Linked DNA regions of Homo sapiens: region 1 is linked to region 2. The links come from fine-mapping of genetic effects on gene expression. A gene starts in region 2. The other region holds a variant in brackets. All regions are shown on one strand. Distances are between the middles of the regions. Region 1 overlaps LRRC8A (leucine rich repeat containing 8 VRAC subunit A). Region 2 holds the start of LRRC8A (leucine rich repeat containing 8 VRAC subunit A).

What was found. PIP is the estimated chance that this variant, and not a neighbour inherited with it, causes the effect.
Region 1: its variant is fine-mapped to the expression of LRRC8A in whole blood (TOPMed, PIP 0.96).

The regions. Positions count from the first base shown.
Region 1 is chr9:128,904,016-128,912,451 of GRCh38, forward strand. It overlaps LRRC8A (leucine rich repeat containing 8 VRAC subunit A), which reads left to right. Exons shown (of 4, transcript NM_019594.4): 3 at 3,142-5,306. The coding sequence starts at 3,150. It overlaps LOC101929291 (a long non-coding RNA gene), which reads right to left. Exons shown (of 4, transcript XR_007061808.1): 3 at 6,029-6,223; 4 at 5,300-5,925. Among named protein-coding and RNA genes, the nearest start is that of PHYHD1, 13 kb to the right of the region's middle. RefSeq lists an enhancer at 5,727-6,510. The variant T/C (reference allele first, on the strand shown) is at 3,482.
Region 2 is chr9:128,874,366-128,890,922 of GRCh38, forward strand. It overlaps LRRC8A (leucine rich repeat containing 8 VRAC subunit A), which reads left to right and starts at 7,768. Exons shown (of 4, transcript NM_019594.4): 1 at 7,768-7,885; 2 at 11,650-11,756. KYAT1-SPOUT1 (KYAT1-SPOUT1 readthrough) reads right to left here and starts at 7,585. Exons shown (of 25, transcript NR_182311.1): 1 at 7,532-7,585. It overlaps KYAT1 (kynurenine aminotransferase 1), which reads right to left and starts at 7,585. Exons shown (of 13, transcript NM_004059.5): 1 at 7,532-7,585. RefSeq lists enhancers at 7,655-7,804, 11,081-11,843 and a silencer at 7,835-8,114.

The DNA.
Region 1 (8,436 bases), 26 kb after region 2:
AGACTGTCTCAAAAAGGGAAAAAAAAAAAGTTTGTTACTATTCTGGTTATTAACATTATCAGTAATCAAAGAAAGGTGGCCCATCATCTGGGCACCCCTGTTCCTCTCCTAAGAGAGACAGACACATTTGACACAGGCATTTAAAACTTGGTTTAGATAAAAATCTAGGTTCTGGGTTACAGTGTAAAGTAAAAATTGAATGTAAAGTAAAAGCACAATTTGGCCAGGCATGGTGACTCACACCTATAATCCCAGCACTGTGGGAGGCCGTGGCAGGTGGATCACCTCAGGTCAGGAGTTCGAGACCAGCCTGGCCAACGTGGCGAAATTCCGTTTCTACTAAAAATACAAAAATTAGCTGGGCGTGGTAGCGTGTGCCTGTAATCCAGCTGCTTGGGAGGCAGAGGCAGGAGAATCATGTGAACCCAGGAGGCGGAGGCTGTGGTGAGCTGAGATTGTGCCACTGCACTCCAGCCTGGGTGACAGAGCAATACTCTGTCTCTAAATAAATAAATAAATAAAAGCACAATTTATTCTAATACACAGAAAGGGCTGGGTGCAGTGCCTCACTCCTGTAATGCCAACACTTTGGGAGGCTAAGGCCAGAGGATTGCTTGAGGCCAGGAGTTTGAAACCAACTTGGCCAACATAGTGAGATCCTGTCTCTACAAAAAATTTTAAAAATTAGCCGGGCATGGGCCAGGTATGGTGGTTCACACCTGTAATCCCAGTACTTTGGGAGGCCAAGGCGGGCGGATCACAAGGTCAGGAGAACGAGACCATCCTGGCTAACACGGTGAAACCCCGTCTCTACTAAAAATACAAAAAAAAATTAGCCGGGTGTGGTGGGCGGGTGCCTGTAGTCCCAGCTACTTGGAAGGCTGAGGCAGGAGAATGGCGTGAATCTGGGAGGCGGAGCTTGCAGTGAGCCAAGATCGCACCACTGCACTCCAGCCTAGGCAACAGAGCGAGACTCCGTCTCAAAAAAAAAAAAAAAAAAAAAAAAAATTAGCCAGGCATGGTGGCACACACCTGTAGCCCCAGCTACCTGGGGGAGGCTAAGGTAGGAGGATTGCTTGACCAGGAGGTTGAGGCTGCAGTGAGCCATGATCACGCCACCGCACTCTAGTTTGGGCAACAGAGCAAGATCCAATCTCTTACAAGAAAAATTATAAAATTATAAAATACACAGAAAGGACTGGAAGGTTATTATTCAGTGAAAAGTTAACAGTGTGTAACCCTGGTGGGGATTGTAAAGCGGATTCTTCTTTTTTTGCTGCTACGCTTTTTTACAATTTTCCGTATGTTCTCCAGGGAACATCTAGTACCTTATCCCTCCGTGACAGCCATACGTCTTTCATTGTAAGAGCAACCAGCCTTGGCCGTGTGACCACGAATGGCCACAGAGAGGCATTCTCACAGAGATCTTGCTGCGTGCCTCCTGTGTAGCACAGTCTGGGTTTCCTAATGTGGCTTCTCAGCCAGTGTTTCCCAAGCTTGGCCAATCATTAGAGTCACCAAAGTTATGTGTTAAAAATCAGGTTCCCAGCCAGGCACGGTGGCTCACTCCTGTAATCCCAGCACTTTGGGAGGCTGAGACGGGCAGATCAGGAGGTAAAGGGATCGAGACCATCCTGGTCAACATCGTGAAACCTTGTCTCTACTAAAAAACACAAAAATTACCTGGGCATGGTGGTGCAGGCCTGTAGTCCCAGCTACTCGGGAGGCTGAGGCAGGAGAATCACTTGAACCCTGGAGGCAGAGGTTGCAGTGAGCCGAAATGATGCCACTGCACTCCAGCCTGGCGACAGAGCAAGACTCCGTCTCAAAAAAAAAAGAAAAATCAGATTTCCAGCTTCTCGCCATAGTAGTCAAACTAGACTCTCTCTGGGAGAGCCTGCTGTTGCTGCTGTTTTTAATTCCTTTATACACACGCAACCAGAGATGATTTTACATTAAGGCCTCTCTGTGATCACCCAGTTTGTGAGGGAGGAGAGCCTTATTCTTAATCCCCTCTCTTGAGGCCGCTCCCCTAGGAGCCTGTCATTAAGACCCACTATGTGACCTTTGGTCTTCCGAGTGTTCCCAGAATCTTGTACACACATAACTATACACACATGTGGAATTTTGTTGTTGAAGCAGGGTCTCTGTCACCCAGGCTGGAGTACAGCGACGGGGTCATAGCTCACTGCAGCTTCAACCTCCTGGACTCAAGCGATCCTCCCACTTCATCCTCCCAAAATGCTGGGATTACAGGCTAGGATTACAGGCGTGAGCCACCATGCCAGCCCCCATGTGGAATTTTTTTTTTTTTTTTTTTTTTTGAGTTGGAGTTTCACTCTTGTCGCCCAGGCTGGAGTGCAATGGCACAATCTCAGCTCACTGCAACCTCCACCTCCCGGGTTCAAGTGATTCTCCTGTCTCAGCCTCCCGAATAGCTGGGATTACAGGCACCCGCCACTACGCCAGGCTAATTTTTGTATTTTTAGTAGAGACCGAGTTTCACCATGTTGGCCAGGCTGGTCTTGAACTTCTGACTTCAGGTGATCCACCCACCTCGGCCTCCCAAAGTGCTGGGATTACAGACGTGAACCACGTGGAATTTTTAAACCTTGCTCTTTGTTTTATGGAAGTGAGTTCATGTTGTGCCCCCTCTGCATGTTGCTTTCTTTCCTCATATTTTGCGGGAATCCCTCCAGCCCTTTGCTGCAGCTTTACAGCAGCTGGTTCCCAGTGAACTGGGAGTTTTAAATGTGTCCCTCTGGTCAATCTGTTCATTAAATAGGTGGACTTTAGAAAGGAGTTCCCGATTGCTCTTACTGGAATGCAAGGGATGGAGCAGAGAACCCTGAGGCTGCACTGGGGATCTGTCTAATCTCACTGTGCTCAGTCTTCCTGTGTATTAAATGGGGAGCCTGCCTGCCTCCCCCAGGGTGGTTTCCCAGCCAAGTGGCCACATGCTTTCTGCAGAAGGGCTGATAAGTGGGCTGCCCCGTGGAGTAGGCAGGCTTTGGCTCCCAGCTAGATTTGAGGTGGAATTTTGGACAATGGAAGAATTTTCATTGTCTTCTTCCCCTGACCCCTGGTCCTAGGAAAGCCAGGCCACCCTGTGCTAACCCCCCTCCTATGGCTCCCTTTTAGGTTGAACCATGATTCCGGTGACAGAGCTCCGCTACTTTGCGGACACGCAGCCAGCATACCGGATCCTGAAGCCGTGGTGGGATGTGTTCACAGACTACATCTCTATCGTCATGCTGATGATTGCCGTCTTCGGGGGGACGCTGCAGGTCACCCAAGACAAGATGATCTGCCTGCCTTGTAAGTGGGTCACCAAGGACTCCTGCAATGATTCGTTCCGGGGCTGGGCAGCCCCTGGCCCGGAGCCCACCTACCCCAACTCCACCATTCTGCCGACCCCTGACACGGGCCCCACAGGCATCAAGTATGACCTGGACCGGCACCAGTACAACTACGTGGACGC[T/C]GTGTGCTATGAGAACCGACTGCACTGGTTTGCCAAGTACTTCCCCTACCTGGTGCTTCTGCACACGCTCATCTTCCTGGCCTGCAGCAACTTCTGGTTCAAATTCCCGCGCACCAGCTCGAAGCTGGAGCACTTTGTGTCTATCCTGCTGAAGTGCTTCGACTCGCCCTGGACCACGAGGGCCCTGTCGGAGACAGTGGTGGAGGAGAGCGACCCCAAGCCGGCCTTCAGCAAGATGAATGGGTCCATGGACAAAAAGTCATCGACCGTCAGTGAGGACGTGGAGGCCACCGTGCCCATGCTGCAGCGGACCAAGTCACGGATCGAGCAGGGTATCGTGGACCGCTCAGAGACGGGCGTGCTGGACAAGAAGGAGGGGGAGCAAGCCAAGGCGCTGTTTGAGAAGGTGAAGAAGTTCCGGACCCATGTGGAGGAGGGGGACATTGTGTACCGCCTCTACATGCGGCAGACCATCATCAAGGTGATCAAGTTCATCCTCATCATCTGCTACACCGTCTACTACGTGCACAACATCAAGTTCGACGTGGACTGCACCGTGGACATTGAGAGCCTGACGGGCTACCGCACCTACCGCTGTGCCCACCCCCTGGCCACACTCTTCAAGATCCTGGCGTCCTTCTACATCAGCCTAGTCATCTTCTACGGCCTCATCTGCATGTATACACTGTGGTGGATGCTACGGCGCTCCCTCAAGAAGTACTCGTTTGAGTCGATCCGTGAGGAGAGCAGCTACAGCGACATCCCCGACGTCAAGAACGACTTCGCCTTCATGCTGCACCTCATTGACCAATACGACCCGCTCTACTCCAAGCGCTTCGCCGTCTTCCTGTCGGAGGTGAGTGAGAACAAGCTGCGGCAGCTGAACCTCAACAACGAGTGGACGCTGGACAAGCTCCGGCAGCGGCTCACCAAGAACGCGCAGGACAAGCTGGAGCTGCACCTGTTCATGCTCAGTGGCATCCCTGACACTGTGTTTGACCTGGTGGAGCTGGAGGTCCTCAAGCTGGAGCTGATCCCCGACGTGACCATCCCGCCCAGCATTGCCCAGCTCACGGGCCTCAAGGAGCTGTGGCTCTACCACACAGCGGCCAAGATTGAAGCGCCCGCGCTGGCCTTCCTGCGTGAGAACCTGCGGGCGCTGCACATCAAGTTCACCGACATCAAGGAGATCCCGCTGTGGATCTATAGCCTGAAGACACTGGAGGAGCTGCACCTGACGGGCAACCTGAGCGCGGAGAACAACCGCTACATCGTCATCGACGGGCTGCGGGAGCTCAAACGCCTCAAGGTGCTGCGGCTCAAGAGCAACCTAAGCAAGCTGCCACAGGTGGTCACAGATGTGGGCGTGCACCTGCAGAAGCTGTCCATCAACAATGAGGGCACCAAGCTCATCGTCCTCAACAGCCTCAAGAAGATGGCGAACCTGACTGAGCTGGAGCTGATCCGCTGTGACCTGGAGCGCATCCCCCACTCCATCTTCAGCCTCCACAACCTGCAGGAGATTGACCTCAAGGACAACAACCTCAAGACCATCGAGGAGATCATCAGCTTCCAGCACCTGCACCGCCTCACCTGCCTTAAGCTGTGGTACAACCACATCGCCTACATCCCCATCCAGATCGGCAACCTCACCAACCTGGAGCGCCTCTACCTGAACCGCAACAAGATCGAGAAGATCCCCACCCAGCTCTTCTACTGCCGCAAGCTGCGCTACCTGGACCTCAGCCACAACAACCTGACCTTCCTCCCTGCCGACATCGGCCTCCTGCAGAACCTCCAGAACCTAGCCATCACGGCCAACCGGGTGAGTGGCCCGGCCACAGCTCTGCGTGTGGGCTGGCGGGTGGCCTGGCCAGGGCTTGTGGTGGGGCACTCGGCAGGCTCAGTGTCCTGGGACCGTCGATGCCCCTGAGTGTGGAGTCCTCACCTGGGGTTTACAGAACCATCCAGGATAGAAGCTCTGTTCAAGAGACAGACTCCTTGGGCCCCATCCCAGGCCTGCTGAATCCGAATCTCTGGGCCCCGGGCCTGTCTTTGCTCCAAAATGTTGCAGTTCTCCTGCCTGGAGAGACTGCATGGCCAGGCAAGGTCTGTCCCCCAAGGTGACCTTGAGCCGGGTTCCTCTTCAGCAGGGATGTGCTTGGGCAGGAGGTCCAAACCCGGGGGTTCTCTCGCAAAGCCGGGTGGTGGGAGTCAAGACTTAGCCTGGAGTTTGTGTCTTCCTCAGCTTGTTCCCAGTCGGACTTGGAGGCAAGGAGCCAATCCGGGTCCACCCAGGACAGAAACTGTGTGGGTGGCCAGTGCTGGCTGAGGGGAAGCCTTGGATGGTCTCTGCAGCTCCCACACACCTTTCTCCACTGCATTTGGTGGTGTCAGAGGCAGAGTTGGGCCTAGATGGGGCTAGTTTGTTTCTGCCTGCCCTTCTGAAAAGGAAATTGTGCAAATCATTGTCACTGGGAGTTTGGGAGGCCACACCTTCGACATACTTTCAAGACTGTTGGTGGTCTGTGGGTGCCAGTCTCTTACCTGGCTGGGGAAGCCCCCATCCAAGGGCCCCTTGGTGGAGGCAGGCAGTGTGGATGGAGGGCTGGGTACTCCTGTGGCTCTGTGGTCTGGCCTCCGAAATGGAAACAAAGCCACTGCCATTGTGGGGAACGTCCCTCTTCCACCCGTCCTGGGGACCTGCAGGTTTTCCTGGGCCTCACATCCAGGTGGAGATTCCTGTAGTGAGACATGTGGTGGAGGAAGCCTGAGGCCAGGCGCTGGGAGACAAGGGAGAGCCCAGCCAGCCACCCTTCTGCCCCCGACACAGCAGCAGCTGTCGTGCCGGGCCCCTGTGAACTTCACTAGGGATGCCACCAGGTTCAGGAGGCTGAAGAAGAGACTCGGAGTTGACCAGGCCCAGTGGGTCAAACCTGTAATCCGAGCACTTAGGGAAGCCAAGGTGGGGCGGTCACTTGAGCTCAGGAGTTCGAGACCAGCCTGGGCAACATAGGGAAACCCCATCTCTACCAAAAATACAGAAATGATCCAGGCATGGTGGCATGTGCCTGTAGTCCCAGCTATTTGGGAGGCTGAGGCAGGATCGCTTCAGCCTAGGAGTTCAAGACTGCAGTGAGCTATGGTTGTACCACTGTACTTCAGCCTGGGCAATAGAGTGAGACCCAGTCTCAAAGTAAAATGAAGAGCCCTGGAGCCGGCCATTGAAACATGGGGTTTATTTGGGGGAACTTACTTACAGGGTGGTCCAGCAGCAGTGAGCCAAATAGGAAAACCACTCCTGCTTATAAAAAGCGTGCAGCTCATAGAGCATTTTCACTAAGCACCCTCCCCTCTGCAGCCTCCGTGTGGCAACCCGCGTTTCTTAGTTCGGTTGTTGCTGTTGGGTGCATCTGCCATGCAGCAGCCCCACGGTGCAGTCCCTGTTGGTTTCGTGGGCACCTGCTCTGTGTTCGCCCTGTGCCAGGCATGATGCACCTGTCCTCCTTCCACCAACCTGCTGAGTCCTCCCAACAGGGTCTGTCTATAGCATCCTCAGGCACGGAGGGAGGTGGCCCCTGGAATGCCCGGTCTGTCTATAGTATCCTCAGGCACGGAGGGAGGTGGCCCCTGGAATGCCCTGTCTGTCCTCCTGGGCCCCAGGACAGGACACACCTTCTCCAGCATCACTCAGACTAGATGCTTCAGGCCCTCCAGATGCCTGCTGGCTTGGAAGCCTTCCTCCCCTCTTCCCCAGGGCTCCCTTACTGCAGAGCAACCTGCAACCCACATGTATCAGGGATTTTGACAAGTCCTTATCTCCGGCCACCCCATATTATGACTTGAGCACAGTGGGAGAGTGGACCAGGGCAGGGTTTTCTCTTGTAGTTTCGGGACAGGCCCACTGAATAGGAAAACTGGAGTCCCCTGGGGAGAAGCCACATTTGGGAAGCACAGAACAAACCCAGCCCTTCTTTAATCTGTGGAGGGGGAGACCCTGTGGCTTCCCCATAGCACAGTGCTGCCCTTGATAAGCTGGGACTTCCTCACAGCTCCTGCCATTCCTGCCCTGTCCCGGGTGCTGTGCTGGGGCTGTCCTCCTGGTTGGGGGAGGGTTCAAGCCTCCAGCCTGGCTCCCCATCCTGTCCCCCACCCCCAGCTCCTCCCGCCAAGCTTGCCTGTTAGTGTCATGCCTGCTGGCTGAGGTCACCCCTCAGGAAAGGAGCTGGCGGCAAGCACGCTGTCCCAGAGGAAGGAGACCCTCTGGACACCCTGTTTAGCACATGGCTTAATCACATCCTGTCCCCACCCCCTGGAACACCAGAGCCTTAATAGGGAAAACAGTTCACTTGGGCCAACCCCAGGCAGGCCCCTCATTCTGAGTGGGAGGCCTGAGCCCCTCTTCCTCCTCACTCGGGCTTGATGGCTCCTTCTCAGCCACCTTGGCCAGTGGTGACCAGGAGGGGTGGGCGTGGCCTGCCCACGCCCTTGCGTGCTGTTTCTCCAGATTTATACTCTTGCTAATGAAAGCCTTGACAAGACAGTATTCATTCGTTCACTCGTTTACTGATGTGTGCAAATTGTTATGTTTTGTTTGTTTGTTTTTTTGGTAGAGACAGGGTCTCACTGTGTTTTCTAGGCTGGTCTTTAAACTCCTGGCCTCAAAGCCTCCCACCTTGGCCGCCCAAAGTGCTGGTATTACAGGCATGAGCCACTTCGCCTGGCCTTTGTGCAGATGTTTTTTGAGCACTTCTAGAATCCAGCTATGGAGCAAGGCGCCGGGGACATGGGGATGAAGAAGGCCAAGTAACGAGGCAGTTAGCACAGTGCGTAGGCGCTCTGCTGGAGCACCAGGTCCCTGGGAACACAGAGGAACAGGCCCCTGAAGAACGAGGAGGAGGAAGCCAGGTGGAGGGGAAAGGGACAGTCCAGGAGGTTCTGGTGGGGAGGAGCAG
Region 2 (16,557 bases):
CAGTGGTGTGATCTCGGCTCACTGCAGCCTCAACCTACCGGGCTCAGGAAATCCTCCCACCTCATTCTCCTGAGTTGCTGAGACAATAAGCACGAACCACCATGCTCAGCTATTTTTTTTTTTTTGTAAAGATGGGGGTTTTACTATGTTGCTTAGGCTGATGTTGAACTCCTGGCATCAAGCAATCATCCTGCCTTAGCCTCCCAAAGTGCTGGGATTACAGGTGTAAGCCACTGCACCTGACATCTTCTATGTCTTGATGAATACGAGTCATCCTTAGTCATCCTTTGTTTTCAATGTTGTGAAATATCTCTGGGAGTTCCTGTTCTGTACATTTTGTGGTGAGATAATCCTGCCTTTTTTTTTTTTTTTTTTTTGAGACGGAGTCTCGCTCTGTCACTCAGGCTGGAGTGCAGTGGCGTGATCTCGGCTCACTCCAATCTCTGCCTCCCAGGTTCAAACGATTCTCCTGCCTCAGCCTCCTGAGTAGCTGGGATTACAGGCACGCACCACCATGCCCGACTTATTTTTGTATTTTTAGTAGGGATGGGGTTTCACCATGTTGGCCAGGCTGGTCTCGAACTCCTGACCTCAAGTGATCTGCCCACCTCGGCCTCCCAAAGTGCTGGGATTACAGGCGTGAGCCACTGCGCTCAGCCCAGGGAGTTCCTTTAATGTGAAGTTTTGCTGGTATTATTTCCTCTGGGTCATTATCTTTTTCTTTAGAACCACTTTCCTCATTTATGTTGATAAGTTTGCCTTCAAGAAGTTTCTCTGGATGCAGATCTCAGGTTTCCCAAACTGTGAACAGCTGCAGAGTTGCCATCCCCACAGCTAGCTATTTCTTCCATTATTCCATTTATGTTCAATTTGTTTTTTTTTGTTTTTTTTTTTTTTTTGGTTTTTGTTTTTGAGATGGAGTCCTGCTGTGTCGCCCAGGCCGGAGTGCAGCTGTGTGACCTTGGCTCACTGGCGTGGTGGCTCACGCCTGTAATCCCAGCACTTTGGGAGGCCGAGGCAGACAGATCACTTGAGGTCAGGAGTTCGAGACCAGCCTGGCCAACATGGTGAAACCGCGTCTCTACAAAAATACAAAAATTAGCCGGGTGTGGTGGTGGGCACCTGTAGTCCCAGCTACTCGGGAGGCTGAGGCAGGAGAATCACTTGAACCTGAGAGGCAGAGGTTGAAGTGAGCCAAGATTGAGCCACTGCACTCCAGCCTGACAGCTGTCCAGGTGACAGAGCAAGACTCCGCTTCAAAAAAAAAAAAAAATGTGTGGGATAACTGCTGCAATGGAGGCAGCTCAGGTGATCTGGCAGCACCGAGGAGGCCCAGCACCACTAGGCATGGGGACCATAGCTGTGCCGAGGACCCTTCTGGGGTAGCTCTCAGGCATCTAAGATCTGAGGCCTCCCTGCTGCCAGGCCAGGGGCCGAGGGCCAGTGGCCTGTGCCCCCCTCCAACACACACCTCTATCAGCCTGGGCAGCTACTGGCCATTTGCTTGACCCGAAGGCAGTGGATGACCCCTGGGCCCGTGGAATGCATCACTGATGCATTCCAGGGGCTGATGTCAATAACCCAGGGGCTGATGTCAGCTATGCCACTGTCCCCCAACCCCCATTGGACCAGCTCTGCCCAGAAGCCTGTGGTGACACTGGACAAAGTCCAAAGCCTCCTCAGCCTGGCGTTTGGAGCCGGCTGGAATCCAGGCTTGGCAGCCTCCACCTTCCCTCCCTTTACTCTTTTTTTATTTTAGAGATAGGGTCTCGCTTTGTCACCTAGGAGCCTTGAACTCCTGAGCTCAAGTGATCCTCCTGCCTCAGCCGCCTGAGTATCTGGGACTATAAGTGCATGCCCCAACCCCCAGCTCAAATTCTTTGCTTTTAAAAAAAAAAAAAAATAGAGACAGGGTCTCCCTATGTTACCCAGGCTGGTCTTGAACTCCTGGGCTCAAGTGATCCTCTGGTCTTGGCCTCCTAAAGTCCTGGGATTACAGCTTGGATTATAGGCATGAGACACCACACCCAGTCATCCTTTGTTCTTTTTTTTTTTTTTTTTTCTGTTTTTGAGACAGAGTCTGGCTCTGTCGCCCAGGCTGGAGTGCAGTGGCGTGATCTCAGCTAACTGGAAGCTCCACCTCCCGGGTTCACGCCACTCTCCTGCCTCAGCCTCCCGAGTAGCTGGGACTACAGGCGCCCGCCACCACGCCCTGCTAATTTTTTTTGTATTTTTAGTAGAGACAGGGTTTCACCATGTTAGCCAGGATGGTCTCAATCTCCTGACCTCGTGATCCGCCTGCCTCGGCCTCCCAAAGTGCTGAGATTACAGGCATGAGCCACGGCACCCGGCCTTTTTTTTTTTTTTTTCTTGAGATAGAGCCTCTCTCTTCACTCTGTCACCCAGGCTGGAGTGCAGTGGCACAATCTTGGCTCACTGCAACCCCCACCTGCCGGGTTCAAGTGATTCTCCTGCCTCAGCCTCCCAAGTAGCCGGGATTACAGGTGCACGCCACCACGCCCAGCTAATTTATTTTTATTTTTATTTTTTTGAGATGGAGTCTCACTCTTTCACCCAGGCTGGAGTGTAATGGCACGATCTCGGCTCACTGCAACCTCTGCCTCCCGGGTTCAAGTGATTCTCCCACCTCAGCCTCCCGAGTAGCTGGGATTACAGGCACCCACCATCATGCTCGGCTAATTTTTGTATTTTTGTAGAGATGGGGTTTCACCATGTTGGCCAGGCTGGTCTTGAACTTCTGGCCTCTGGTGATCTGCCTGCCTTGACCTCCCAAATTGCTGGAATTACAGGTGTGAACCACTGTGCCCAGCCACCCTTTGCTTTTGAATAAATGTTGCCCATCTTCACTCAAGCTGTTTCCCCTGCCTGGCATACCCTCCAATCCAAAATCCCTAGCAGGGCCTAGCCCCACCTGTACCTCCTCTCTGAAGCTTCTGTGTCCACCCAGGCCCTTTGCTGAACTCAGAAAGCACCTACCTGTGCCTGACCCTCTCCCCCAACCCCATGCTAAATTCTCTAATCCTCATCACAGCTGATTAGGATGGTATTATTTACTCTATTTTGCTCAAAAGGAGAACAAGGAAAACTCACTCAGCCTAGAGAGCTCCAGCTGTGATTCAAACCCTGGTTTGCCTATTTCCAAAGTCCAAATTCTGTCCCGTGAAATCTCCTCTCAGGCGGGTGCTAGGGCTGACAGGAGACCACCAGCCCCTTGGGGACAGGAGCCATGTCTTGTCCAACTTCACCTTGCATGGCTGCTTACAAGGGCAGGCGAGGTGACCATGCCTTCCCAGGGTGGCCCCACGTCACATCACTCAAGTCAATTATGACATTCGGTTTTGGAGCTTCTCAATAGGGGCACACTTAGAATTTGAGATGAGTCAGTTCTTCACTGGGGAGAGCTATCTGGAGCCTTGAAGGATGTTTAGCATCCCTGGGCTTAAAATGCCAGGAGACTCCCAGTTACTGAGACAACACACATCGTGGCACCTCTAGAGAAAGGGTACAGAACTGGGGATACCATGCCCAGGAAGACCAGTCTAGTGCATGAATAACCACAGAAGACCAAACCTTGGACTTGGATCAAATAGTCCCAGCTCCACCATAAACTAGCTATGGGACCTTGGTCATGCCAGGCCGCAGCCTCTTGGGGGCTCAGCTTCCTCATCTGTACAATGAAGGTGACAAGAATCCACAGAGAATATACTGTGGGTCCTGGCTCACAGCCACTTGTCAATGACAACAAGCTATTAACTTTTTTTTTTTTTTGAGACAGTCTTGCTCTATCGCCCAGGCTGGAGTGCAGTGGCACAATCTCGGCTCACTGCAACCTCTGCCTCCCAGTTTCAAGCGATTCTTGTACCTCAGCCTCCAGAGTAGCTGGGACCACAGGCACGTGCCACCACACCCAGCTAATTTTTGTATTTTTGATAGAGATGGGGTTTTACCACGTTGCCCAGGTTGGTCTCGAACTCCTGAGCTCAAGCGATAGTCCCACCTCAGCCTTCCAAATTACTGGGATTATAGGCATGAACCACCACACCCAGTCAACAAGCTATTAACATTTAAACCTACCAGGCTTTCCATAAAATTAGTAACCAAGCAAAATGAAAAATCTCTTATTATATAATGAATCCAAATTTTTTTTGATAGAAAAAAAACAGAATTCCCTGAAGACAAATGTTTGGTGACAATTTGTTGAGCCAATGTTTTCCTGGAGAGAACAGCCTGTCTGAGGAGATCTAACAATTGCGTCACTCAGACACAGTCCCCCTGGGCTTAGGAATTGGCAGAGGAGAGAGAAATGACTTCTGGAGTCCAGACGGCAGGTTTACAGGCTGGAGGGGTTGGTGGAAGACCTGAGTGACACAAACAGTAGGTATCTCACCACTTATTCCTCCTGGCACAGGACCCAGATTCAAAAACCACAATCTCACTCCCATACATTAAAGGAACACACAACAGATAGGCAGATAGCCTCGCGGGAGCCTTGGAGGAGGTGGCATCAGCTTTACAGGTGGGGAAACTGAGGCTTAGAGAGGGGAAATGACTTACTCGAAGTCCCAGAAAAGCACCAGGAGGCCCCCAGCTGCAAGCTGGGGAATGAGGGCATAGGATGAGCATTTTAAAAATTATGCCGGGAGGCCGGGCGCGGTGGCTCACGCCTGTAATCCCAGCACTTTGGGAGGCCGAGGTGGGCGGATCACAAGGTCAGGAGATAGAGACCATCCTGGCTAACACGGTGAAACCCCGTCTCTACTAAAAATACAAAAAATTAGCCAGGCGTGGTGGCGGGTGCCTGTAGTCCCAGCTACTTGGGAGGCTGAGGCAGGAGAATGGAGTGAACCCGGGAGGTGGAGCTTGCAGTGAGCCGAGATTGCACCACTGCACTCCAGCCTGGGCGACAGAGTGAGACTCCGTCTCAAAAAAAAAAAAAGGAATTATGCAGGGAACTGGCAGTGCCATCCAGGAGTGGGATGTGGCCCCAGGTCTGTTCTGGCAGGAGTTACAGTGACTGCCTCATGGCTGTGAAGGCTCCTGCATTCCTTTATCGCCCCCACCTGGATTATAAAATCAGGCGCCCTACTCTTTGGAGCTTGGAGAGGTTAGTGTGGCGTTCTGGTGGTTGGCACCTAATGGAGGCATTCTCCGGGAGGAAAGATTCCTGCTGAAGCCAGACTGAATGGGTCTAACTTGTATATTCTCCAATCCTGTTGGTCACCCTCAGTTTCTTAGTGGACACCAAGGCCAAGTCCAGGGTAGGAGCCCATCTCTCCTTGAGTCTCCAGCCTCATCATTTCTCCTTCTGGACATCCTAGTTTCCAGTCACATTGAAAGTCCCTTCCTTGGAGAAGCCCCTTCTGACTCCACCCAGGCTAAGCCACATGTCCCCTCCCAGGTGGTCCCAAGACCTGGGCTTCCGCCCTCAAAGTACTCAGCACGGGGGCGCTCAACTCCAAGGACAGGAACTATGTGCTTGACCTGTTCTCCACCAGATCCTCAGCCTCTGGCAGCTCACCCAGCACAGAGTAGGTCCCCCAGGCATTAGCACAGATGATCCTGGGAAGCTAAGGGAGAGGCCTGGGAGCCCAGCAGCCTTCCTAGGGAGGGAGGGAGACCTGTAGGAACCCCCTTCTGGCAACTTTCTTAATCTCTCTGTGCCTCACTTATCTGTAAAATGAGACTTATCTGCGTGTAAAATACAAAGTATAATACGTGGGAACATTCACTGTCTACAACTGTGGTTCTGGTTGTTCATTTTACAGGCGGGGACATGGAGGCCCACGGAGTACCTGGCAGGCCCACAGTCCACAGGTTGGAAAGAGGTGCCCAAGCCCTGGACTTTAAGCCTGGGCTCTGACCTTCAACGTTTGCTTTTCACACCACACATCATGTCAATAAATAGTTACTGGATGCCTGTTGTGTGCCAGGCCCCAAGACGGGTGTTGCGTGACTGACAACAGAAAAAGCATCTCAGTGGCGAGGGATAAGCTAGATCATGGGCATTAGTGTAAATCTCCCAGGGTTCAAATTCCAGCTTCTCCACTTCCTGGCTATGATTTTTTTTTTTTTTTAGACGGAGTCTTGCTCTGTTGCCCAGGCTGAAGTGCAGTGGCCCAATCTCAGCTCACTGCAAGCTCTGCCTCCCAGGTTCATGCCATTCTCCTGCCTCAGCCTCCCGAGTAGCTGGGACCACAGGCGCTCGCCACCACACCCGGCTAATTTTTTTGTATTTTTAGTAGAGACGGGGTTTCACCGTGTTAGCCAGGATGGTCTCGATCTACTGACCTCGTGATCCGCCCGCCTCAGCCTCCCAAAGTGCTGGGATTACAGGTGTGAACCACCGCGCCCGGCCCTGGCTATGATATTGCTAAGTTTCCTAACCTCTCTAAGGTTCTTTTCTCTTCTATTAAAAGGGAAAAATAAGACCTCCCAACAGAAGTGAAACTAGGCATTGGCTTAACACGTGATGGATGGGAGCCACGACTATCTTCATCATCTTATTTTTAATTATCTATCTGTGCACATGGTAGTAAATTTCTCGCCCTGGCCCAGGTACCCAAGACCCCAATTCTGTCGGAGACAACCGCAATTAACAACTTCTTGTGCATCTTATCAGACAGCTGGCGCGCACACCCGCAGATACGCCCACCCTCAGGCGTCCTTCTACGCAAAGATGGATAGCACCCATCAACGCTGTTTTTTCTTTTTTTAGACGGAGTCTCGCTCTGTCGCCCAGGCTGGAGTGCAGCGGCGCGATCTCGGCTCACTGCAAGCTCCACCTCCCGAGTTCATGCCATTCTCCTGCCTCAGCCTCCAGAGTAGCTGGGACTACAGGCGCCCACCACCACGCCCGGCTGATTTTTTTGTATTTTTAGTAGAGATGAGGTTTCACCAAGTTAGCCAGGATGGTCTCGATCTCCTGACCTCGTGATCCGCCCGCCTCGGCCTCCCAAAGTGCTGGGATTACAGACGTGAGCCACCGCAACCGGCCCAACGCTGTTTTTACTGTTGTTTCCTTTTTTAACCTAAGGTATCTTAGAAGTCACCCTACATTAGTGCATATTAAACATTGTTCGTCTTAATGGCTGCACAGTATTCCACTGTATGGATTATTTTTTAATTTGGTTGCCGGTACTGTTATCAGCCAGGGAATTTGCGAGGACCCAGCGGGATTTATGGAGCTGCAGAGTTGGAGTCTGGGGACCCAATTCCAACCCCAGATCTGTCCAGAATTCTGTTGTCTCGGGTATCATCTCCACCGGCGCGGTCGTGGGAGGGGGATTTGGGTGCAGACAGGACCAGCCCCAGTGTCCGAGCGAGAATCAGCGAGCAGCACGCGCAGTTGATTCCCGCGGGCGGCTCAATCATTCTGTGCAGCCACTCCGTTATACTTAGTAGCATCAAACTCATTAAGCACTCTAGCACAACCAAGCTCGGAACCGTTAGCCGACCCTCCCAGCCTCGGCACCTGACCTTGGGGAAGTGGCGCTCCGACACAGCTACTCACCCTCACCTGGGCCGCTTCACCCCTCGTTCCCAAGTACACCCCGTAGGTTGCAGCAGTCCCTGTCCCTTTAAGGGGGCCGAGCCCGGCTCCGCTACTTCCGCCCCGAAGCAGCAGGGCGCTAGCGCGGAGGCGAGAGCGGGAGAAAGCGCCGCTAGAATTCTCCTCATAAAGATGGCGACGCCCTGGCCGCCGCGTTCGCGCCCGGCGGTGACGTCACTTCCGGGGCGGAGGAGGCTGAGTGGTGCAGTGAGGGACAAACAAAAGGAGGCGCCGGAGCAGCGCTGCGGCCGGCGGCGGGACGGAGCGGCCGGGGCCTGGGGCTGCCTGCCGGGCGGCCGGGCGCGGCGAGCCCAGGTGAGTGGACGGGGTGGGGAAAGGGGCGCGAGCTGTCACCTCTCGAAACCCACTTACACACGCCCTCGGCCAGCTGCCCGGCCCGGGGCGCCCGGGGCATCTGGGGCTCTGTCTCCGGGCCGGCCCCCTGGGGACCTCCCGCGGTGTTCGGCCTACCTCTGGGCTCCCCAGTGCCCGGAGTCTCCGGGGCACCACCTTCTCGCCGGCTCCGCGGCGCGCGAGCCCCCTCCCAGGCACCCCTGTGCCTCCTTGTGCTTCAGAAACCAGGAGTTTCCGCCTCGGCTCCCCCATGTCCCCTTGTCATCCCCTGGGTCCCCCCAGATCCTCACCCCTCCACACACACTCTCCCGTTCCTAGAGGTTCCACCTCTGGGCTCTCTCCTTGCCATTTCTTTTTCAAAGATTTCCTTAGCTGTCTTCTCCTGAGTTCCTGGTCCCCTTCTCTTCCCTTGCACCCCTCCTTCCTATCGTTCCGATGGGGGCAGTGCCCTGACTTGGGGGCAGGATCCCCGGCTAGGCTCTTGGGGCCTTTCTGGGATGGGATATTTGGGAAGACCGGTCCGGAATCTAAGAACCCAGACCCTGTCCCAGTCCTGTGCATTCAGGTGGGCCCGAGGGCGAGGCGAGATCCAGTGAGGTCCAGGCCTGGTGCAGCCCTAGGTGAGCTGGATACCCAGCAAACTGAGCTCCCAGGCTGAAGGGGCATAGCTGGGGTCATGGAGTTCATGATGATTCTGCTGCTTTCGCTGACTGCTTCTTCCCCTTGATCTGGACCGGGGTGAACCGAGGTCTGCCGGTTCTCAGCTGTTGCGATTGTTGCCTTTTTTGGGAAGGAGGGATGGGTCGGGGGTTGTCTGGTAGCCGCCTCCTGATGGAGACTTGGCTGGAAGGGTGGGCGGTTCCTGGGTGAGCCACACTTCCACTGACTCCTCTTCCCCTGCCCTACCTCAGGAAGCCTTTTGAGAATGAGGTGTGGAGGGAGAGCACCTGGTAAGAGGAAGGGAACTGGGGGAGCCCGAAGTTCCCAAGGACCTCTTCCACCTCTTCTGTTAGTAGTACTCTTAACCCCTGCCAAACTGTATTCTGCCCTTTGGAGCAGACAACCTGGCAGACAGACAGGCTGTAAGAAGCGGGAGGAGATCGGCTGTTGCTGATACTTCCTGTGGAGGGGATGTGGGAGTGGGAGTTTGTTCAGAGAGACTGGGCAGTGCTGATTGCTCAGTCTCACTGGTGTTGCTTCCATGAAGGTCAAGTCTTCCTCTGGCTCATGAAGTGAGGCAAGGACAGATGACCTGTGCTGGAGGAGGCTGTTGTGGACATGCCAGGGATGAGTGACTGGGTGGCTGGTCTCTGCTTCCTTGTTTTCCTGGTCTCAGGGCTTTGGCATGGGGTCTGATGCCCTCTGCGTTCTAGGGACCATAGGGTACAGAGCAGGGGGTGCAGGGCCGGGCGTGGTGGCTCACGCCTGTAATCCCAGCACGTTGGGAGGCTGAAGCGGGCAGATCACGAGGTCAGGAGTTCGAGACCAGCCTGGCCAACATAGTGAAACCTTGTCTCTACTAAAAATACAAAAAATTAGCCAGGCATGGGGCTGCGCACCCGTAATCCCAGCTATTCGGGAGGCTGAGGCAGGAGAATTGCTTGAACCCAGCAGGCAGAGGTTGCAGTGAGCCAAGATCGCGCCATTGCACTCCAGCTTGGGCAAGAAGAGCAAAATTCCATCTCAAAAAAACAAAAAAAAAAACAGAGCGGGGGCACAGGAAATGTTCATGACTTCCCCCCAGAACTTGACTAGATGTGGTGGTTCTCCATCCCTTAGGCACACCCACCAGGAAGCCGTTTCCTTTGCAAACTCTTGAATGACCTTTCTGGACTGTAGGGAATCCTGGGGATCACTGCCGTGGGTCAGAACTCAGGGAAGTGGCCGGACCCTGGGTTGCTGCCTGGCTTGGCCTGGACCTTGCCTGTAGGAGTTGGAGGGAAATCAGCCTGGTTCCTGACTGCCTCGTCTTAGAGTAGAGCTGATTCCAGGTTTTCACATGGAGAAACTGAGGCACACACTGATGGGCCAAGACCTCTTGGAGATTCAGGTGGGATGGATGTGGGGCTCTTAGAGCCCAGCACAGTGTCTCTCCATGCCTTGACTCATTCATTCATTCATTCATTCATTCAGCCATTCTTTAGAAAGTGCCTGTCTTGGGCCTGGGATGGCTGGGAAAACATCCCTGGCCTCCTGAGAGCTGCAGTCTGGGAGGACAGGCAAACCAGAAGACACATAAGTTCTGATATACTGTGGCCACCATATTAATAGAAATATTACAGAGGCAGCCCAGAGGAAGAAGGAATTAGCTCTGGGTGGTTATGTAGGGGGTGGTCAGGGTATGCTTTCTGGAAGAGGAGGGACTAGAATAATTAGTGACAGGGAGTCCAGGGGCCCAAGTTCTGGACCTGGCTCTGCCATGGGCAGGTGATTGGACCACCCAGCCTCAGTGGGTGCCCCATCCTTGACAAGGAGGGTAGAGTGAGGTAGAGGTTGGCTTGGATGGCCTCCGTGCCTATATAGCTGTAGGTACTTTACTGCCTAGTCACCACCACCCCGTATGGAATTGCAGGGTTATTGACCTACCTCCCATGACGGCGGAGACCATCTTCCATGTCTGCCCTCCCAGCACAGGGCCTGGAACTTAGTCAATATAGTAAATACCCAGTGGTAGAAATGATGGAAAAACAGCCATCCCTCCTAGATCAGTCCAGGTGTCTTTGTCTACCCCCGCCCTCCTCCTTCCTGGGTAACTCCTGCTGATCCTTTGGCTCTCTCTGGTGGCTGGGCCACTCTCCCAGCTCCTGGCTCCCCGAAACCCGTGTCGTAGTGATCACAGCTTTCCCTACCCTGCCACTCCCATGCACAGTTCTGCACAGTGTCTGGCGCATATGGAGTAGATGCTCACCAGAGGCTGGTTGACTGTCGGAGATGATGGGTGGATTTGGTGTTTAAGTTGGAGTCTGGGCACTGGCTGGTCTCTGCCTGACCCAGCCACCCCACTGTGGCTCATCTCTTGCCACTTCCCCTCTCTGGCTCTGGATCTCGCCATGCCGAGCCCGCAAGCCTTCTCCAGATGCCATGTACTCTCTCCTCCAGGTAAACATGTGCTGTTCCTCCTGCCTGGAATGCTCTTTTTCCAGCTCCTACTCTTAGGAGTCAACTCAGACAACTCCTCCTCCAGAAAGCCTTCCCTGACCCCACTAGTCTGGGTCTAGTGCTTCTCCTGGCTCCCCCGCAGCAGAGCTCTGAGCTCTCAGACCGTCGCTACTGACTTGGCACCTCCTCAGTAGACCAGGTTCTGGAGGGAGGTGCTCTGTCAGAACCTCTTTTGTCTGCCAGGCGCGGTGGCTCATGCCTGTAATCCCAATACTTTGGGAGGCCGAGGCGGGCAGATCCCTGGAGGTTAGGAGTTTGAGAGCAGCCTGGCTAACATGGGGAAACGCTGTCTCTACTAAAAATACAAAAAATTAGCCAGGCTTGGTGGTGCGCACCTGAAATCCCATCTACTCGAGAGGCTGAGGCAGGAGAATCACTTGAATGCGGGAGGCGGAGGTTGCAGTGAACCGAGATTGCACCACTATACAAAAAAAACCTCTTTTGTCACCCCAGAGCCCAGCCAAGGGCCTGCTACCAAGCAGGCTCTCAGGAAGTGCTGGCGGTGTGGCAGGTAACTGCGACAGTCACACATGTGCCTGCTGACGGCAGCTCTCGCTTCCTTGTAGGGAGGCAGCGTCCATGGAGCAAAAGGAATGCCAGGATCCTGCACAGGCAGACGCGGGCCAGCCTCAGCACCGACAGCCGACGCGCAGATAGCAGAGCCATCCTTGGGGTAAGGACTGGGCCCCTCTCCTTCTCAGCCAGCTCCAGCTCCAGTCAAGTGCCCTTCCCAGCCTGGGGAGCAAAGGGTAGCATCTCCATCCCCACAGTCCTTTGCTTTTCTTGCTGTAGGTCCAGGGTAGAGTGGCAGACAGCAGAATTACTCTCTTCCTCCTTCTCCCGCTGAGTAATGTGTGCTTGCCGCACTCATTGAATGCTGAGTTGTTTCATTGCAAACCTCTGTTTTTTCTCCTTCACCCCAGATCTTATCAGTCTGGGTCTTGCTAATGCAGCCTCATGACCACATTTCCCAAAAAGCGTGGACCACGTTTCCCAAGTGTGTTCCATGAGACACCAGTTTCTTCGGTCACAGTGGTTTGATAATTCCAGGAAACAAAGACTTCTTGTTATCCTTGCTGCAGGACTTATCAGAGTCTTGAATCAGAGCCGTCATCAGGATTGAGCTGATCACGATAAGGGAGCTAGCGACTCGTGTTTCCCCACACTTATTTGATCGTGTAGACATCTTTGGGGACTGGGATTCCTTGGCCTGTGCTTTGGAAAACAGTTCCCAGAGGCAGGAGAGTCCCTTTAGAACATTTGGAGGATTAAATATGTTGACATAGAGCAGGCAGTTGGCAGAGTGCATGTCCTAGAAGGTGGTCCCGAGTCATAGCTGGTGTGTGTATAGACGGCTGTGTAATTTGCCAGACATACTCAGGTCGGTGATCTCATTTGACCATTTGAGGATGCTTAGGCAGTGGCCATTATCTCCAGTTTACAGATGTGGAAACTGAGAATCAGAGTGAGGAAGCAGCTTGCCCAGACTCATCTGTAAAGAAGGCAAGGACATGCGGCTTGAATCCAGACCCTGGAATCCTGGGCCAGGGTCTTCTGTTGTCTGCCCTGAGGCCTTCCTGCCTTTATCTCTCACCTCAGTTTTTTGTGTGAAGGAAGGCCTGAGTCTCCCAGCCTGGATTTTAAAAGAAATAGTAATTTTTTTTTTTTGTAATTACCAACATAGTTGTATATTCATTATATGGTTTTATACTGTTTGGCTATTTTTGGGGGACAGGGTCTCACTCTGTTGCCCAGGCTGGAGTGCAGTGGCACCATCATGACTCACTGCAGCCTCGATCTCCAAGGCTCCAGCGATCCTCCTGCCTCAGCCTCCCAACTAGCTGGGACTGCAGGTGTGCACTACTGTGCCCAGCTAATTTTATTTATTTATTTATTATGGAGATAGAGCCTCTCTACATTGCCCAGGCTGGTCTCGAACTCCTGGGTTCAAGAGATGCTCCTGCCTTGGCCTCCTAAAGTGCTGGGATTATGGGTGTGAGCCACCATGCCAGACCTGTTTGGATCTTTAATGTCATCTAGGAAATGAGTCTCTGCTGATTCTCATCTTCAGAGGTGTGAATGGGAAGGGGTATATTCTTCCACATCTATTGTTACCATTTGCTTATTTTTATAAAAATCTGGTCATGTTTGAGTTGCTGATTCACAGTTTGCTTTTGTTTCATATAATGATATCCCCCGGACCTCTTTTTTTTTTGAGATGGAGTCTTTGTCACCCAGGCTGGAGTGCAGTGGCACAATCTCAGCTCACTGCAAGCTCTGCCTCCCGGGTTCACTCCATTCTCCTGCCTCAGCCTCCCGAGTAGCTGGGACTACAGGCGCCCGCCACCACGCCCGGCTAATTTTTTTTGTATTTTTAGTAGAGACGGGGTTTCACCATGTTAGCCAGGATGGTCTTGATCTCCTGACCTTGTGATCCGCCGCCTTGGCCTCCCAAAGTGCTGGGATTATAGGCATGAGCCACCGCGCCCGGCTCCCCTGGACCTCTTTCCCATGCAAGAGGTAGATAGAGCTGTGTGTGGTCCTGGCAGAATGCACACCCTTGAGCCCCCCTGGCCCCTCCCCCTCACATGCTGGGAGTTTTGAGCTGTTTGGGCATTTACAGCAGCAGAGGGAGGTCGGAAGTGCCTGGTGTGTGATTGTGTCGACTCTCCTGTTTATGGGATAAGGTCAGCCAACTCCTGGCTCTGCCCCATAGGAGTTTCCTGTTGGTTTTGAGGAACTCTGTCCCCTGGAGAGAGGGGAGGCCTGAGCTGTAGTCTTTCATGCTGGGCAGCGCTGAGCAGGAAGCAGCAGGTCCTGCTTGTCAGATCATAATTCCTCCTTTTTGCCAAGGATGGCGTGGAATGAACCGCATGGGCCGGCCTGAGGGGTTTTGGCCTCCACCCACCACCTGGGTTCAGGGGACACACATGAATCAAGCTGAGACAAATTGAGTCTGAGCCATTGTTCTCCTGAGCCCAGCCCTTCCTGGGGATAGGAAGGAACAGGCAGACCCTGACTCAGTTTACCCTTGCTGTATCTGGAGGAAGTGTTGGTTGTGGTCCTTTTGGCATGCTCCTTTCAAGTTTTAGTTCTGAGAGTGGGCAGGTGAGGAGCAGGAGGAGGGCCCACCCTGCCACCTGGGTCCAAAGATGCTCTCTTTTGGGGTATAGCTGACCTCAGGAAGGGTTTGGGCAAGGAGAGCATACAGGCGTGGCAGCCTCGTTTTGCGGGGCTGCGAGAGCGTCTGGCAGGATCGCGCTGGGAGTGAGGTCTGTGCCAGAGCTCCTGACATCTCACCTGTGTTTTTCAGGCTCACTGTCCTGTCGCTTTCCCTCCCCCACGTCACTTCCTCCATTCTTCCCCAGGAGTCTCTTTTCTCTCCCATACACTGCTTGGGAGAGAGCTGCAGAGCTGGCCCCTCCACAGATGGTGCTCAGCGTCTCTGGCTTCTCCTTCCTGCAGTAGCACCTTCATAGTCCGTGGTCATTCTCAGCACCATGTCTCAGTGCTGAGCCACAGGCTGGGATGCTGCACGCATTTGCCCATCTTACCTTCGCCACAGCCTTGCGTGTGAGGTTGCTTTACCATTTTACAGACCAAGCCCCAGAGGGATGAGGTCTCTGGCCCAAAGTTATACAGTGTACATGTGGCAAAGCTAGGACTTGAACCCAGGTTGGTATGGCTTGGCAGCTGGGGCTCTTTCTACTTCACCCTCCATTACCCTCTTTTCTCAGGTTCCCAGGCTTTTGGGGGCCTTCAAAGTCACCTGGAAGCTTGTCTAAAATGCTGTTCCCCTGGGCCCACCACCACAGACCTGCAGAGTCTGCCCTGGAAGGTTGGCCCCAGGAATCTGAACTTTGAAGATGCTTCCCCAGCAGTTGTGAGGCTGGTGGGCTACAAACAATGCTGAGAAACACTGACCGGACGCCATTCTTTCAGCCTTAGTCCCAGTCGTCTACCGCAGAACTCATGCCCTTGGTGTGGAAGCAGGGCTGAGCTCCCCACAGGACTGGGACTGGACAGGTTTTTTTTTTTTTGTTTAATTAATTAATTAATTATTTTGAGATGGAGTGTTGCTCTGTCACCCAGGCTGGAGTGCAGTGGCACAATCTTGCTCACTGCAACCTCCACCTCCCAGGTTCAAGCTATTCTCCTGCCTCAGCCTCCCGAGTAGCTGGGACTACAGGTGCCCGCCACCATGCCCAGCTAATTTTTGTATTTTTAGTAGAGACGGGGTGTCACCATATTGGCCATGGCTGGTCTCGATCTCCTGACCTTGTGATCCACCCACCTTGTTCTCCAAAGTTCCAGGACTACAGCCGTGAGCCACTGCGCCTGGCCAATTTTTTTAATTTAATTTTACTTTTTTGAGATGGAATCCTGCTCTGTTGCCCAGACTGGAGTGCAATGGTGCCATCTTGGCTCATTGCAGCCTCTGCCTCCTGGGTTCAAGTGATTCTCCTGTCTCAGCCTCCCAAGTAGCTGGGATTACAGATGTGCACCACCACGCCTGGCTAATTTTTGTATTTTTAGTAGAGACGGGGTTTCACCTTGTTGGTCAGGCTGGTCTCGAACTCCTGACCTCAGGTGATCCACCCACCTCGGCCTCCCAAAGTGCTGGGATTACAGGTGTGAGCCACCGCACCTGGCCAGACAGTTGTTTTTTAGTGGCTTCATTTTGTGTGTGTGTGTGTGTGTGTGTGTGTGTGTGTGTGTGTGCTGGGAAGGCGAGGGGCTTAACCTTCCCTCCTCAAGGACGTGTGGGGCTGAGGTTTCTAGAAGGGCTTTTACTCCCAGCCACAAATGTTCCCTGCTGTCTTCCAGATGCGTTTCTGTTGCGTCTTGCGTCTTGCAGCAAGTTTGTCTACATCTAAACGTCTCTTGAGGGCTTAAAACCTCAAAATTAAATTGCTTGCTGCAATCTAAGCCTCACGCCTAGAGCAATGTTCCAGTGGAGTAAAAGTGGCTGTAAAATTCCATAGCTTTCACGTGCCACCTGGACGCCGTCAGAGTGCCACTGCCAAACCTGCGCCCTCTGACGGGCAGCATGACAAACGCACTGACCAGCAGCGGGGGCGGTGGGCGGGAATCCTGGCCCTGAAGGGACACCTCGCATCTCCCAGCTGACTCCATGAGTCAGGATCCCTGGGGGTAGCCCCCTTCCATCCCAGAGAGTCGGGTACCAGGCAGCTCACCCTCTGTCAGACCCCCCAGTCCTCCCCCTGGCTCACCTAGGGCTTGGCCAGTGCCCACTCCCCTGGGATCTCAGCAGAAGATGTGTCTGCTGCCTCTCTAGGGTACTGGTGGCCACATTTCATAACCTGTCTAAGAAGGCAGCGCTGGTATTCATAACAGGTTAAGACCTGTAAACCGTGTGTGGCCGTGACTCCATGTGCAAATATGAGCCAACAAACGTTGGCTGGACGTGGCGGTTCCCACCAGTAATCCCAGCACTTTGGGAGGCTGAGGTG